4 linked regions of the Homo sapiens genome follow. The protein of the gene in region 4 purifies or fractionates together with the protein of the main gene of each other region. This does not show direct contact. Each region holds a gene or a part of one and is shown on either strand. Other genes may lie near its edges.

The links.
Region 1: the proteins of SENP2 (region 4) and ITIH1 purify together in Homo sapiens (affinity purification with mass spectrometry, with the first as the bait; one large-scale study listed by BioGRID). This does not show direct contact.
Region 2: the proteins of SENP2 (region 4) and KPNA4 purify together in Homo sapiens (affinity purification with mass spectrometry, with the first as the bait; one large-scale study listed by BioGRID). This does not show direct contact.
Region 3: the proteins of SENP2 (region 4) and USP28 purify together in Homo sapiens (affinity purification with mass spectrometry; 2 studies listed by BioGRID and IntAct, with this or other methods). This does not show direct contact.

The regions. Positions count from the first base shown.
Region 1 is NC_000003.12:52,787,599-52,790,080, reverse strand, and holds part of ITIH1 (inter-alpha-trypsin inhibitor heavy chain H1 isoform a preproprotein), read right to left. Parts: coding exon 2,469-2,482; intron 2,096-2,468; coding exon 2,015-2,095; intron 1,850-2,014; coding exon 1,736-1,849; intron 429-1,735; coding exon 227-428; intron 1-226. UniProt on the Homo sapiens protein: May act as a carrier of hyaluronan in serum or as a binding protein between hyaluronan and other matrix protein, including those on cell surfaces in tissues to regulate the localization, synthesis and degradation of hyaluronan which are essential to cells undergoing biological processes.
Region 2 is NC_000003.12:160,520,572-160,524,071, forward strand, and holds part of KPNA4 (importin subunit alpha-3), read right to left. Parts: intron 1,340-3,500; coding exon 1,208-1,339; intron 1-1,207. UniProt on the Homo sapiens protein: Functions in nuclear protein import as an adapter protein for nuclear receptor KPNB1. Binds specifically and directly to substrates containing either a simple or bipartite NLS motif.
Region 3 is NC_000011.10:113,865,573-113,869,072, forward strand, and holds part of USP28 (ubiquitin carboxyl-terminal hydrolase 28), read right to left. Parts: intron 1-3,500. UniProt on the Homo sapiens protein: Deubiquitinase involved in DNA damage response checkpoint and MYC proto-oncogene stability. Involved in DNA damage induced apoptosis by specifically deubiquitinating proteins of the DNA damage pathway such as CLSPN.
Region 4 is NC_000003.12:185,609,266-185,614,836, reverse strand, and holds part of SENP2 (sentrin-specific protease 2), read right to left. Parts: coding exon 5,487-5,571; intron 3,187-5,486; coding exon 3,092-3,186; intron 2,231-3,091; coding exon 2,179-2,230; intron 1,493-2,178; coding exon 1,429-1,492; intron 274-1,428; coding exon 97-273; intron 1-96. UniProt on the Homo sapiens protein: Protease that catalyzes two essential functions in the SUMO pathway.

The DNA.
Region 1 (2,482 bases), about 130 Mb from region 4:
TAAGGTGCGGTGGGAGCACAGTTGCCATGCAGCTGGGCCCAGAGGACATATCCAGTAACCAAGGGAAATGGAGGGCTGGGTGGGCCATGGAGTCTGACATGTCTGCACAGGCCACATGGGTGTCACCCACAGACATGGCTCAGGGACGAGGGCCCTGCAGACTCAGCAGAGTCCTGGGCCCAGGCCACACCTCCCCCTGCATCTTGCCCAGGCCCTGGCAGGTTACCCGTCCTGCCGCAGCACAGCTTGGTCCCTCCAGGAAAACACAGGCCCACCAAAGCCGGGGTTCAGCGTAATGTTCTGAGGAGTCACTTCCAACTGAAAGTCCGTGGCAGGGTTTGCGATTCCCAGCCGCCCGAAGTACGTGCCGTCATGCTGCCCAGGGCTCCTGGCCTTGTTGCCAATGAGCTGTCCATTCACTGAGAAGCCTGCAATGGAGCAAGAGGGCATCCGGGTTGGGAAGGGGCCTGCCTGCCTTTGCTTAGCAGGATCATGCCTCCTTCCTAAGAGGCCTCTACGCCCTGCCTGTGCCACTCTGTCTTTGAGAGTCTCCTGCCTCAGGGTCTCCAGGTCTGGTCCCGCACACAGCACCACCTCTCCTTCCTCTCCACCCCTCCTGCCATGCCAAATATCCCATACTCAGCTCTCAGTTCTGGGTCCTAACGGAGGTCGTGCCTCCCCGAGAACAGGACCTAGCCTGCTCCTTCTCTGTGGCCCCAGCCCCTCACACAGGGACAGGCTCCCATTGTGCTGGAAATGCATTGTGGGACCTCTTCACAGAGGTCTCCGCTGACCTGGGCAGCCACAAAGCCCCCTTCCCACCCTCACGCTGCCAACCCAGCACGTCTCATGCTCTGAAATGATCATCTCAGAATGTTCACCTGTTTGTCTTCCCCTTCCCTAAACTCTATGAAAGCGGGACTATCTTGGCTCCCACTGCATTCCCAGCCCCTCGTTGGTGCACAACAAACACTTGCAGATGGACTAACTGGACAGGGAGGGAAGGAGACAGGAGGGAGCAGGGGTGAGAGAAGGAGAGGGAGCTGTTCCCCATAACCAAGGCACTGCTGGGAGAGAGGTGCTCTGCTCAGCCATGCTTCATGGGGAAGGTGGGGCAGGACTGTGACATATTTGCAGGACCTAGTATGAAATAAAAAGGAAGGGCCCCTTGTTTAGAAAGTGTTAAGGGTTTCAAGGCGGCAACGGAAGAGCATTAAACTGGCTGGGCACGGTGGCTCACACCTGTAATCCCAGCACTTTGGGAGGCCGAGGTGGACGGATCACCTGAGGTCAGGAGTTTGAGACCAACCAGGCCAACATGGTGAAACCCCATCTCTACTAAAAATACAAAAATAAACCAGTCATGGTGGCATGCGCCTGTAGTCCCAGCTACTTGGGAGGCTGAGGCAGGAGAATCACTTGAACCCAGGAGGCAGAGGTTGCAGTGAGCTGAGATAACGCCACTGTACTCCAGCCTGGGCAACAGAGCAAGACTCTGTCTCAGAAAAAAAAAAAAAAGCCCCTGTGTGCCTACCCCAGTCACATGCTGATAAAGCTGGCCCTGTGTAGGTGCAGCCAGGAGGATGGCGTGGGAAGGCAGCGGGCAGAGCCCAGCCAGGTGGATGGTGCCCAGGCAGAGGGCAGTGAGGGCCTTGGCCATAGTCCTGTTCCTGGCTGAATGTTGAGGGCAGAGGAGCCCTGGCCCTGTCTGGCAGAGGTGTGATGCCCGCCATACCTGTGTTGGGGTCCTGTACCAGGCTCAGGATAACACCAGGCTCCTCATTGATGTTGAAGCACAGGGTGTCCTCTTTCTGGGGCACGTGGATGATGAAGTGAGGGTCTGTGTCCACTGGGGGCACAGCATGGAATTCGTTAGATTGGACATCGGGCAGATGGGGCTGGCCAGGGGTTGGGGTTCAGCTAGGCAGGTCCCAGAGAGAGACAGAGAGAGAGAGACAGCCAGATAGGGTGGGTCCCAAACAGGGGTGTCCCTCAGACCCTTCCAAGGACTCACCGCCGGTCACTCGGTCTGGCAGCCGCTGGGTATTGGAGCTGGAATGAGTAGGAGAAGGCTGCAAGGCTGACAGCACGAACGCTGATGGGAGGGGGAGTGGCATTTAGAAGCGGGGCAGCCAGGCCTTCCCTGGAGCTGCTGATCCCTCTGATGACTCTTTCCTCACTGGTGGGGCTGGCCTGAGGCCACCAAGCAGGGATGTCCACTCAACATCACATGCCCTTGATTGGCTCCCGGGACACGGGGACAGAAGCTTGGCCTGGCATGTTTAGCTGGCCCCCTCTCTGTCTCCTCCCCCAGGGACCTCAGGCTGGGGAGGCCAGGCTGTTCAGAGGTCTGTTCTAAAGATTCCCAGTGACAAGCAGTGAAGACAGCTAGAACGGAGGAAGAAAGCCAACGGGGTGATCATCAAGGAGGGGTAGAGATGTGAATGGCCAGGATGGCTGCCACTTACTCCTTCTGGGTCCC
Region 2 (3,500 bases), about 25 Mb from region 4:
TTCTTTCTGTATTTAGCTAAGTGTTCCTTCTTTAAAGTGCTTTAATTTTAAGGTACAGGGTCTCTAATCTGACTATGTATCAGTATCACCTGAAGAGCATTTTAAAGCTCAAGTTTCTAAGAAATATTTTCTGAAACAGAAATCTCCAGGGGTTGAGCAGGAGAAATTAAAAACAGCTCCACACAGTTTATTTTGATGTTCAGGCATAATGACTTAGGCTACAGACTAACGGTTTCTCTTATGCGATTATTGTACTTTACAGATTCTAAGCCATTAGCAGATTAAAATATACTATTTACCTCAGAAAGGTAGAGGGAGCTTGCTGCGTCTCCCCCATTACAACTGTAGCTTAACAGCTACTGCTTATATCTCTGAGAACTTCTCACACTCTGTTTTTGGCTCTTTCTAAATGCAAATTCTTTGGGATAAATATTATGTGAAAGAATTTAAACAATAAAAAATAAATTTAAATAAGTGAAAAGCAACAATTTAGAAAGTCCCTAAACAGCACATTTCAGTAGAGTACCCTTATTTCAGCACCAATGAAGATAAGAGTTAACTAAACTTGCCAGGTGAGTAAATAAGGATGGTTGGCAAGGAAGAAAAAAAAAGAAGTAGGGAAGTGAAAGAGGAAGAACAAAAAGAAGAGGAGTAGGAAAAAATAAGTGTCTGTCAATACTTGTTTCAGATGCCATGCATGTTGCTATAATGAACTTCCCTGGTCTACATTAAAAATCAGTAATCCGGCCAGGCATGGTGGTTCACACCTGTAATCTCAGCACTTTGGGAGGCTGGGGTGGAAGGATCATTTGAGGCCAGGAGTTCAAGAGCAGCCTGGCCAACATGGCAAAACCCTGACTGTATCAAAAATAGAAAAAAATTAGCTACACATGATGGTGTGTGCCTGTGATCCCAACCACTCAAGAGGCTGAGGTGGGAGAATGTTCCTTGAACCTAGGAAGTGGAGGTTGTAGTGAGCTGAGATCACGCCACCTCACTCCAGCCTGGGTGACAGTGAGACCCCATCTTAAAAAAAGAAATTAGTAATCTACAATGGCATCTTATTATTTATTTTCCCCTTTCCATCACAGATTTGTTGTTATGCTAAGAATATACTTTAAACTACTGAAATTGTCCATCTTTGAATGCCATGCTTAAAGCAATTAGTGGTAAGAAATACTTATAATTTAACTAAGAACAAACTTACCTGAACTTTAACTTCCTGGTGGCTGAGCAGAGGAACCAAATGAGGAACTATTCCAGAGTCTATTACCATCTGTATTTGTTCATTGCCAGCATCAGTAAGGTAAGAGAGGGCCCAGACTGTGTCTACCAGTATCTAATGAATAAAATAAAAATTCAAACAACTTTTAAATATTTTCTCATTTTAGTAATTCTTGACCAAACAACCATTCTAAAATTGTTCAACTACCTTCTTCCTTCTTTTCTTCTCTCAGTTTAATTCATTGGAATCTGATCGCTACGGTATTAAACATCATCATCTATAAATGTCTGTACTAAGACGTACATCTTTTAGCCATATTCAGGATTCTGATCCCAGATTAGTATCCAATCTTAGTTCACTAAGATACACACGCACACTACACAGCTCATAAAACAGGAGAAAAAGACATTCTCTTTCCCAAAGGCTGAGGGATAACAGGTCCAAAAACATTGTGGCTCATGTATAAAGCTGGAAAGACTACATGTATCCAACATGCACAGTTGTTCAAAACATCTGGGCTAGATGAATATATTCAAGGAGTTCTCTAGTATTGTAAGTACCATGTAGATATGCCTAAAGCCAATAACCCAAGTATTCATATTGTAGTATAAAATACTTTAATCTTTTCCAACCAGTTTGTTTTGCCTTACAGAACTGGAGACAACTTTTTTTTTTTTTTGAGACGGAGTCTCGCTCTGTCGCCCAGGCTGGAGTGCAGCAGCGCGATCTCGGTTCACTGCAAGCTCCGCCTCCCGGGTTCATGCCATTCTCCTGCCTCAGCCTCCCGAGTAGCTGGGACTACAGGCGCATGCCGCAACGCCTGGCTAAGTTTTGGCATTTTTCAGTAGAGACGGGGTTTCACCGTGTTAGCCAAGATGGTCTCGATCTCCTGACCTCATGATCCGCCCGCCTCGGCCTCCCAAAGTGCTGGGATTACAGGCGTAAGCCACTGCGCCCGGCCAGCAACTTCTTAAATAGTGGAAGTCCCCTACAGCTGCAGATCAAGACATTAAAATAATCATAGGTCAATCTGTGAGACCTGTAATTAAAACAAAAAATACGTACTTCACTACAGCTGCTACTTATGAAAAAAAAAAAAAAGCCTGTGTAATCAACTTCTACTAAGTAGCCTACCATTTTTTTTAACGATTACATCTTTAAGTACAACAGGCCATGTGTTTGATCTTTCCTAGTACGTTAGGTCCTAATTAGAAGTTATGACCAAAGGGCAGTATGACAAACAACTGTAACTGCTGCAAATAAATACACAAATTATTGACAAAGACATGGGAATAATAATTGTGCCTAAAACTACTTCCAAAGCCTTTCCAGAATATGAACTCTGTGTCAAGACAAGCTGGAGAAGTGTAAAACCTTTAAAACAATAAACTAGGCAGGGAGTAGTGGCTCACGCCTGTAACCCCAGCACTTTGGGAGACCAAGGCAGGTGGACTGCTTGAGCCCAGGAGTTACAGACCAGCCTGGGCAACACGGTGAAACCCCGTCTCTATGAAAAACAGAAACAATTCGGCATTGTTTATTTTTTCTTGTTTTTATGACCCTGACTTTAAAAAAATCGTAAAACTGTAAACTAATGTTATGCTTAGGACACCCAAGAGAAAATAAAAAAATAAGATAAAAAAAACCAAAAAGACACCCCGAAACTCCTAAAAGGTGAAAATAATGCTTTGCCATTGTTTCTTAGGAAATTCAAGAAAGCTCTAAGGATATTTCTAATGTAAAAAGAAGACATCAAATGAGAGTTCGCACAGGCTGGGTGTGGTGGCTCACGCCTGCAATCCCAGCACTTTGGGGGGCCAAGGTGGGTGGATCACGAGGTCAAGAGTTCAAGACCAGCCTGGCCAACATAGTGAAACCCTGTCTCCACTAAAAAATGCAAAAAAATTAGCCAGGCGTGGTGGCGGGCATCTGTAAACCCAGCTACTCGGGAGGCTGAGGCAGGAGAATCGCTGGAACCCAGGAGGCAGAGGTTGCAGTGAGTGGAGATCATGCCACTGCACTCCAGCCTGGGAAACAGTGCGAGACTCTGTCTCAAAAAGAAAAAAAAAAGAATTCACATAAAAAAATGGTATCAATATATGTGAAAAAACCTAAATTTCAATTTGCAAATGTAACTGAGTTTCTTTTCTGGAATATTAACATATGCTAAAATTTGTTGACATAGGCCAAAAATTTCAAGTTACTTGCTCATAACTGTATATAAAAGCTAGATACATGTTTTTAAAGGACATGTCACTAATATGCTCAGATCAAA
Region 3 (3,500 bases), on a different chromosome or scaffold from region 4:
AGTGCCAACACCATTTGATGGGGGAAAAATCATGTCTTCAACAAATGGTATTGGTACAACTGGATATCCACAGCAGAAGAATCACACTGGACCCCTACCTCACACAATACACAAAAATTCCTCAAAATGGATCAACAACCTAAATAAATAACTAAAACTATAAAATTCTTAGAACACAGAGATAAGTCTTCATGACCTTGGATTTGTCAATGGATTCTCAGCTATGACACCAAAAGCACAAGCAACAAAAGAAAAAAATAATAACACTTTTGAGCCAGGCATGGTGGTGTGTACCTGTAGTCCCAGCTACTTGGGACACTGAAGTGGGCTGATGTACTTTTCTGCATCAAAGGGCATTATCAAGAAAGTGAAAAGACAACCGGTATACAAATTCAAGAAATAAACACATACATCAAGAAATCCAACAAGAAATATACAGTGCTGGCCGGGCACGGTGGCTCATGCCTGTAATCCGAGCACTCCGGGAGGCCAATGTGGATCACCTAAGGTCAGGAGTTCAAGACCAGCCTGGCCAACATGGTGAAACCATCTCCACTAAAAATACAAATATTAGCCAGGTGTGTTGGCACGCGCCTGTAATCCCAGCTTCCTGGGAGGCTGAAGCAAGAGAATCACTTGAACCCAGGAGGCAGAGGTTGCAGTGAGCCGAGATCAGACCACTGCACTCCAGCCTAGGTGACAGAGCCAGACTCTGTCTTGGGGAAAAAAAAAGAAAAAAGAAATACACAGTGTACAAATTATCAAGAAAGTGAAAAGACAATGGGAGAAAATACTTTTAAATCATTTATCTGGTAAGAGTCTAGCATCTGGATGATATAAAAAACTCTCTTTGAACTCCCTTTAAGTCAACAACCAAAAAACGAGACAACCCAATTCAAAAATGGACAAAGAACTTAAAAAGATATTTCTCCAAAGAAGATATATAAATAGTCAATAAGTTTATGAAGACACTTAACATTAGCCATAACATTAACATGGCCAAATCAAAATCATGATGAGATGCCACTTCACACCCATTAGGATGACTGTTATCTAACAAAAACAAAAAATAACAAGTGTTTGATGAGAAAAGAGAAAAACTAGAACCCTTGTGTATTGCTGGTGGGAATATAAAACTTCCCCAGCAACCTTGGAAAACAGTCTGGCAGTTCCTCAAGAAGTTAAACATAGAATTACCATATGAGTCAACAATTCCTTCTAGGTATATACCCAAAAGAAGGGAAAACAGGTACTCAAATACAAGTATATGAAAATTCATAACAGAACTATTCATAATAACCAAAAGGTGTAAATAACTCAAATGTCCGTCAATGGAAGAATGGACAGGCAAAACATATCTATACATACAGTGGAATATTACTCAGTGATTAAAATGAAAAACTCATACATGCTACAACTTGAACAAATCTCAAAAACATTACAATAAACGACAGATGCCACACATAATAGGTCACATATTGCATGATCCATTTACATGAAATCTCTCTAATACGTAAATCTAGAGACAGAAAGTAGATTGGTATTGCCAGGGGTGGAGGGCATGGGGGAATAGGGAGTGACTGCTTAATGGTTACAAAGTTTTCTTTCAGGGTAATGAAAATGTTTTAGAACTAGACGGAATTGGTGATTGCACAATATTGTGAATATATTAAATGTCACTGAACTTGTACACTTGAACTTTTTTTTTTTGGAGACAGAGTTTTACTCTTGTCACTCAGGCTAGAGTGCAGTGGCATGATCTCCGCTCACTGCAACCGCTGCCTCCCGGGTTCAAGTGATTCTCCTGCCTCAGCCTCCCAAGTAGCTGGAATTACAGGTGCTCACCACCACATCTGGCTAATTTTTATATTTTTTAGTAGAGACGGGGCTTCACCATGTTGGCCAGGCTGGTCTTGAATTCCTGACCTCAGTGAGCCACCTCACCCAGCCCCACTTTAAAATAATTTTATGTTATATAAATTTTGCCTCAATTGAAAAAAAAAAAATCACCTGGGTGCAGTGGCACACACCTGTAGTTCCAGCTCTGCAGCAGGCTGAGGCAGAATGATCACTTGTGCCCAGGATTTTCAAACAGTAGTACACCACGATCATGCCTGTGAATAGCCACTGCACTCCAGCCTGAGCAACATAGCTAGACCCCAACTCTATGAAAAAACAAATGAATAAGGAAACCTGTATACACATCCCCACACAAAAGGAAAGAAGGAAGGGGGGAGGGAGGGAGGGAGGAAGGGAGGGAGGAAGAAAGGGAGGAAGGGAGGGAGGGAGGGGACACAAGAAAGTACTAACTTGGGCAAGAAGATTGAAAAAGAAAATGTTGTTTAGAAAATCTTCTTAGGGTTAAAGTGCCTACCAGCCATCATGTAGCATGCAGCTGGTACTTACTGAGGCAGATCTTTAGTTTGGTTTTGTGTGTCTGATATTTTGACCCCTGTTTTACGTAGAAAGCCTAGACGCTGGAAATAGTGCCATGCAGCCCAGACTCCAGCACACATCAGCCTCCTGGCAAATCTCAATCTTCCTCAGCATCAGTTTCCAGAATGGAAAATGAAGTACACCAAAAGCTTTGACAGCCCTGTATGACTATCAAAGGAAGTACTGCAAATAAATTGTTAGCAAAATGAAGAAATGCAATAGAAATGAAAAATACTGGGACTTGCCTGTTCAACTAAACTCCTCTAGAGTTTACAGTAAAAATACTGATATCCTGTGTTATAGTTTTGGTTTTATCACTTACTTGCTGTGTCACTTTGCAAATTCTACTTCCTGCTCATACTAAATTTTATTTCATAGAGTGCCTATGAGGGTTCAATGAAAAGTTATTAAAATTATTAAAGTGCTACATAGTCAAGTGGTAAGTCAGAAACTTTGGTTTTAGAAAGGCTTGTACTAAAGTCGGAGAAATGTTATGCTTCAAGTCAGAATGGCTTGAAGTCACAGCTCTGCTACTTATAATTCAATCATGGTCATAAGCTGCATTTCTCATCTGTAAGATAGAAGCAAACAGACTTCAGTTTAAAATCTCATACGAATAAAGAAAAAAAGAGATAGGTACCATGGTTCACGCCTGTAATCCCAAAACTTTGGGAGGCTCAGGCGGGAGGATCACTGGAGCGCGGGAGTTCAAAACCAGCCTGGGCAACATAAAGAGACCCCCCATCTCTACAAAAACTAAAAATATTAGCTAGGCATGGTGGCACATGTCTGTAGTTCCAGCTACTCTGTAGGCTGAGGTAGGAGAATTGCTTGGGCCCAGGAGGTTGAGGCTGCAGTGAGCCATGATAGAGCCACTGCACTACTCCAGCCTAGGTGACAGAGTAAGACCATGTCTCAAAAAAAAAAAAAAAAGACAAAAGAAAGAAAAGGAATAAATAAAATAAATCTCATATGAGGCCCTTATAAGGCATACTAACATCTGAGGTCAGGCACGGTGGCTCATGCCTGTAATCCCAGCACTTTTGGAGGCTGAGGCAGGATGA
Region 4 (5,571 bases):
GCCTGGAGAAAGTCCTCAAAACAAAACATTCAAGTTAGAATAACTGAGGTTATTTAAAGACATGCCTCTTTTTAGGATCAATACAAAGAACAATACCTCTGTAAGTTCAAGGAGATCGTCCGTTCTTCTGTCCCTCTCTTTGCCTGAGCAATTCTTTTCCTTTGTCTCAATTATTGACACTTTCCTCCTGAGTAAGCCATTGCTTCCACTGCCCAGGCGGAGTCGGGCCGACACTTCTTCTGATAGGTCAGGCTCCAGTTGGTATCCCCTCCTCTGATCAAAAAATTATCTAAATTCTACTGACATGTTTGATACTTGCAAATATAAACACAGATTACACATGAAATATAAAACTGCCACTAATGTGAAAGAAAAGAGAATTAGCAAATCCCCCAAGTGAGTAGATTTACCCTATCTGTCTGTCCCTGCAAGGGGGAGCAAAAAAAGCTCCAGACCTAGGCCTCACAGGACCCTCAGTTATGAACCATCAAACAGAACACTCACCACCTTCCCTGGAAGTAGCAAGAAAAGTATTTTCAGTTCTCCTATCACAATTAAAATTAGTATGTTTAAAAGATATTATGAAAGTTTTAAACAGCAAAAAATATGACCCACAATCCCATCACTCAGAATAAATCCCTACTATCTTTATAGTAACTCAACTTGGTTCTAGTTTATCCTTGAAAAAAGTCATTTGATATTACAGAAAATGCACAAAACATTAATGTACCACTTAATTTGAATGAACACCTATATAACCACAATTGTAGTAAACAAATAGAATTCTGCCAGCAACCCAGAACATATCATCTCTTTCCAGAGATGTATGATTTTTAAGAAATTCTCCCTAAGAAGCCATAAAATGTAGGTAACATGTTGGTATGGAGGCAGATTGGTCTCTCATAAACAAAGGTGGCTACTGTACAGAGGCAAAACTCCAACAACTCAGAAGGAAGAAAAAAGTTGTGTATTTTCAATGCTTCCTGCCTTTTTTTTTTTTTTTTTTTTTGAGACAGAGTCTCATTCTGTCACCTAGGCTGGAGTGCTATGGTGTGATCACAGCTCACTGCAGCCTTGACCTCCTGGGCTCAAGCAATCCTCCCACCTTAGCTTCCCAAGTAGCTGGGACTACAGACATGCCACCATGCCTGGCTAACTTTTAAATTTTTTTGTGGAGACAGTCTCACTATGTTGCCCAGGCTGGTCTCAAACTCCTGGGCTCAAGTGATCCTTCTGCCTTGGCCTCCTAAAGTTCTGGGATTACAGGCATGAGCCACTGTGACTGGCTGGCTTGCTGCTTTTTTAAAGAAAAACAACAGAATTAACAATCAAAGTTATATATATATACTTTTTCTTGCTTTTCATGGGCACCAAAACATAAGTTACATAAGTAAACAGGTATCAAATGTAACTAGGATTTTTACTTACACTTTCATTTTCAAATCTGATTCCGACCATCGTCTCTGTATCAGTAATTTTCCCCTTTGAACACCTAAGGAAAAAAATTGAGAGATGATAGACTTCTGCTAGATGATTCAAACCTAGTACATCCTAGTTTTAGAAATAAGATTTCGTAATTTGTACATAAAAATTGTGTTGAGTTTACATAATACTCTAAACCAGGAGTCAACGAACTTTTCTGAAAAGGAACAGACAGTATTTTAGGCTTTGCAGGTTTTATGGTCTTGGGCACATCGTGGCAACTCTGCCACTGTAATTTAAAAGCAGCCAGACAGTATGTAAATGAATTCGCATGTTCCAATAGAAATTTACTATACAAAAATAGGCAAGTAGACCAGATTTGGCCCATGGGCCATAGTTTACAAACTCTGCTATAAACCATCATCCCAAAATCCTAAAGCATGCAGAGCTGCCTTTACTGTTCCTATCCTAAAGACACTGACACTAGACATCCCCACTCCAACCAAACTCCCATCTAAGAAGCATGTGTTTCTCCCAACCCCTGACGCCTGGGAGATAAGGGGCACCCCCCTCAACCCACCAGGCTAGGGTGGGCATCTGACACAACAGCTAGCTACCTATCTACCCTATATGCTGACCAACTACCAGAACTCAAGAGAGTTCACAATTCCTCAGAACTGCTTACTCATAAATACAGCTTATAAAGTAAGAAAATATATATTAAAAGAAAGTGTAGAATGAACTGAATGTACGTACCTCTTTTCACTTCTCAATGAACATAGAGGTCCCCTTGTTTCAACAAGTCTATCTGTGAGGATGGTAAAGAAAAGATTAAATGTTTCCTTCATCGATGAATAATATAGTTAGAATTTCAGCTTACAGAGTTTCCACAACATCAAGACATTCCTCTACATTGAAATGCTACAGTGAATTCCAAAGACACTAGCCTCCCTATATACTAAGTTGCCTAAAAAAATGCATACATATCTTTGCTGTTTAAATATAATCTTTACTATAAACTGAGTGATATCTGCTTATCTGGTAAGCTGTCATTTAGTGGACAGTAAGTGGAGAAGTATAAGGAAATTGTTATATAAGGAATATAATAAAATTTCAGCTCACAAAATAGTTGCTACTATCTAGCAGCTTAGGAATAATAATCCAGAGCCATGTTATGAATCTACTTCACCCTGAAACAGCTTTTCTACTAAATTCCTAGATAAGCCCCAGTCAATGCTGTGAGGTTTTTTTTTTTTTTTTGAGACAGAGTCTCACTGTCACCCAGGCTGGAGTGCAGTGGCGTGATCTTGGCTCACTGCAACCTCCACCTCCCAGGTTCAGGCAATTCTACTTCCTCAGCCTCCTGAGTAGCTGGGATTACAGGCAAGTGCCACCATGCCTGGCTAATTTTTGTATTTTTAGTAGAGATGGGGTTTTACCATGTTCGCCAGGCTGGTCTTGAACTCCTGACCTCAGGTGATCCATCTGCCTTGGCCTCCCAAAGTGCTGGGATTGCAGGCGTAAGCCACCGCGCCCGGCCCAATGCTGTGAGATTTGACAGTATTTTGGTACACCATCTACACTTGAATGTCAATTTTCTACCTCATATGAACACTGTAGCATGAACTAAGGTCAATATATTAAGACAAGGCTAAATCTGGGAACTCACATTGTTTTGGAACAAACTGAGTTGTTTTGACTCCGTGATTTTGCTCTTCCCCCCAGCCTTTGGTCTTTAATGTGTCCATCTGACTTCTTTGAGAACTTAGAAACACAAAAAGTGAGGGAGATCAGATACAAAAGCAAAGTCTACCATTAATATGCATTATCTCTGTCCAGCAAGCTTCTCCAAATAGGGGTGATTGATTACACTATTATATCAAATTACAACAGAAAGGAAGCAACTATGTGGGACTAGGATAAAAGGAGTCTAATCATGATTCTAATAATATTTCAGCCAGGTCACCTAACCTCCAGTTTCTCTGTTTGTAAAATCAGAGGTTCTGAATCCCCAGTGATGCACTAACTGAAAAATCTCAGTGTGATAAAACTCAGATTAAAAGATAAAAAACTTTTTAAGCTATGTATTTAAATGGATCCTGAAACAATACATTAAAAGCAAGAACTTTTTGTTTTTTGAGACGGAGTCTCGCACTGTCGCCCAGGCTGGAGTGCAGTGGTGTGATCATGGCCTCACTGAAATCTCTACCTCTCAGGTTCAAGTGGTTCTCCTGCCTCAGCCTCCCAAGTAGCTGGGATTACTGGCACACGCCACTACACCTGGTTAATTTTTGTATTTTTAGTAGACATGGGGTTTCGCCATGTTGGTCAGGCTGGTCTCGAAGTCCTGACCTCCAGTGACCCACCTGCCTCGGCCTCCCAAAGCGCTGGGATTACAGGTGTGAGCCACCACACCCAGCCAGAAGCAGGAACTTTAATTATTTATTTATTTATTTTGAGACGGAGTCTCGATCTGTAGCTCAGGCTGGAGTGCAGTGGCACAATCTCTGCTCACTGCAAGCTCCGCCTCCCGGGTTCACGCCATTCTCCTGCCTCAGCCTCCCGAGTAGGTGGGACTACAGGTGCCAGCCACCATGCCCAGCTAATTTTTTGTATTTTTTAGTAGAGATGGGGTTTCACCGTGTTAGCCAGGATGATCTTGATCTCCTGACCTCGTGATCCGTCCACCTCGGCCTCCCAAAGTGCTGGGATTACAGGTGTGAGCCACTGTGCCCAGCCAAAGCAGCAACTTTAAAAAGCAAAAATAGTTTGAGGGTTTCGCCAACATGACAAAGTTAAGAGTTCGTTAAACATACTGCTGTTTCCAACATATGGCTGGTCAAAATGGAGAAAATACTGACATTCTGACTAAACCAAAAGAATTTTTTTTTAAAGTTCACAACTGATTATTCGCAAACAATCTGTTATTTCTGCATTCAAAAGCTAGATAGTAGGCCGGGTGCGGTGGCTCACGCCTGTAATCCCAGCACTCTGGGAGGCTGAGGCTGGTGGACTACCTGAGATCAGGTGTTCGAGACCGGCCTGGCCAACATGGTGAAGCCCCATCTCTACCAAAAATACAAAAAATTAGCTGGGCGTGGCGGTGGACGCCTGTAATCCCAGCTACTCAGGAGGCTGAGGCAGGATAATCGCTTGAACCCAGGAAGCGGAGATTGCAGTGAGCTGAGATTGCATCACTGCACTCCAGCCTGGGCAACAATAGTGAAACTCCATCTCAAAAAAAAAAAAAAAAAAAAAAAGCTAGATAATATTCTGTGACTTTTTAATCTTCGATTTGCTATTATATAATTTCTGGGATCCCTGTGTTTTCTCACACCACTTGTTAGAATTACCTAGTGTACCTCAATCCTGAGCTCACACATTTTTTGTCCTCCTTTCACAGGCAAATACAAGGCCAAATATCACTTCCTTCTGCCACTCTCATCTATTAATATTTGCTTAAATCATTATTTAATTAACAAGCTGTCCTATAAGGAAAATTGTTATGACCTGGGAGACTTTAATCTTGTCTCTAGTGGGTTTCCAAATGTGCTAAGATTCAATCTCTATGATGCCGCAGGGACTAGGTATGTCTCATGGGGTAGGGGTGAGGCAGGGGGAAGGAAAAAAGACAAAAAGAAAGACCAGGAGGAGGTGAAGGAGAAAGGAAGGAAGGAAGGGAGATGGGAGAAATGGAGAGAGGGGCAGGAGTGGGGTGGGGAAGGGAGGTAGAGAGAGAGATTGTGGGAAATGTATGCTGGGGAGGTTGAAGAAACTCTCTGCCTCTTGGGAGCCCTACTTCAACCAGTGATCCACTTTTTTAATATAAGAGTTTCAAGTAAAAGTTTACTTGAACAAAAGGTCCTAAAGGTAACATAAAATTTTACTTTGCAAAACCACTGTTACATATTATCCATTACTAGATAAATATCCAGGCAAATGACAGAGCTAGTTCTCTCAGGGTTAACCTCTTCTTTCAGTAAAGCCCTTCCCACCAATACTTTCTCCAAAAACAAACAAACAAAAGATGCCTAGCAAAGCATTATCTGTTAGCTCACTGTCACCTGTGATAATTTGAAGTTACAGGACAGACAGAGTTTCCATGACCACTTTCTTTAAGTCGTTCCAATAACTTTCGGTACTTCTCTC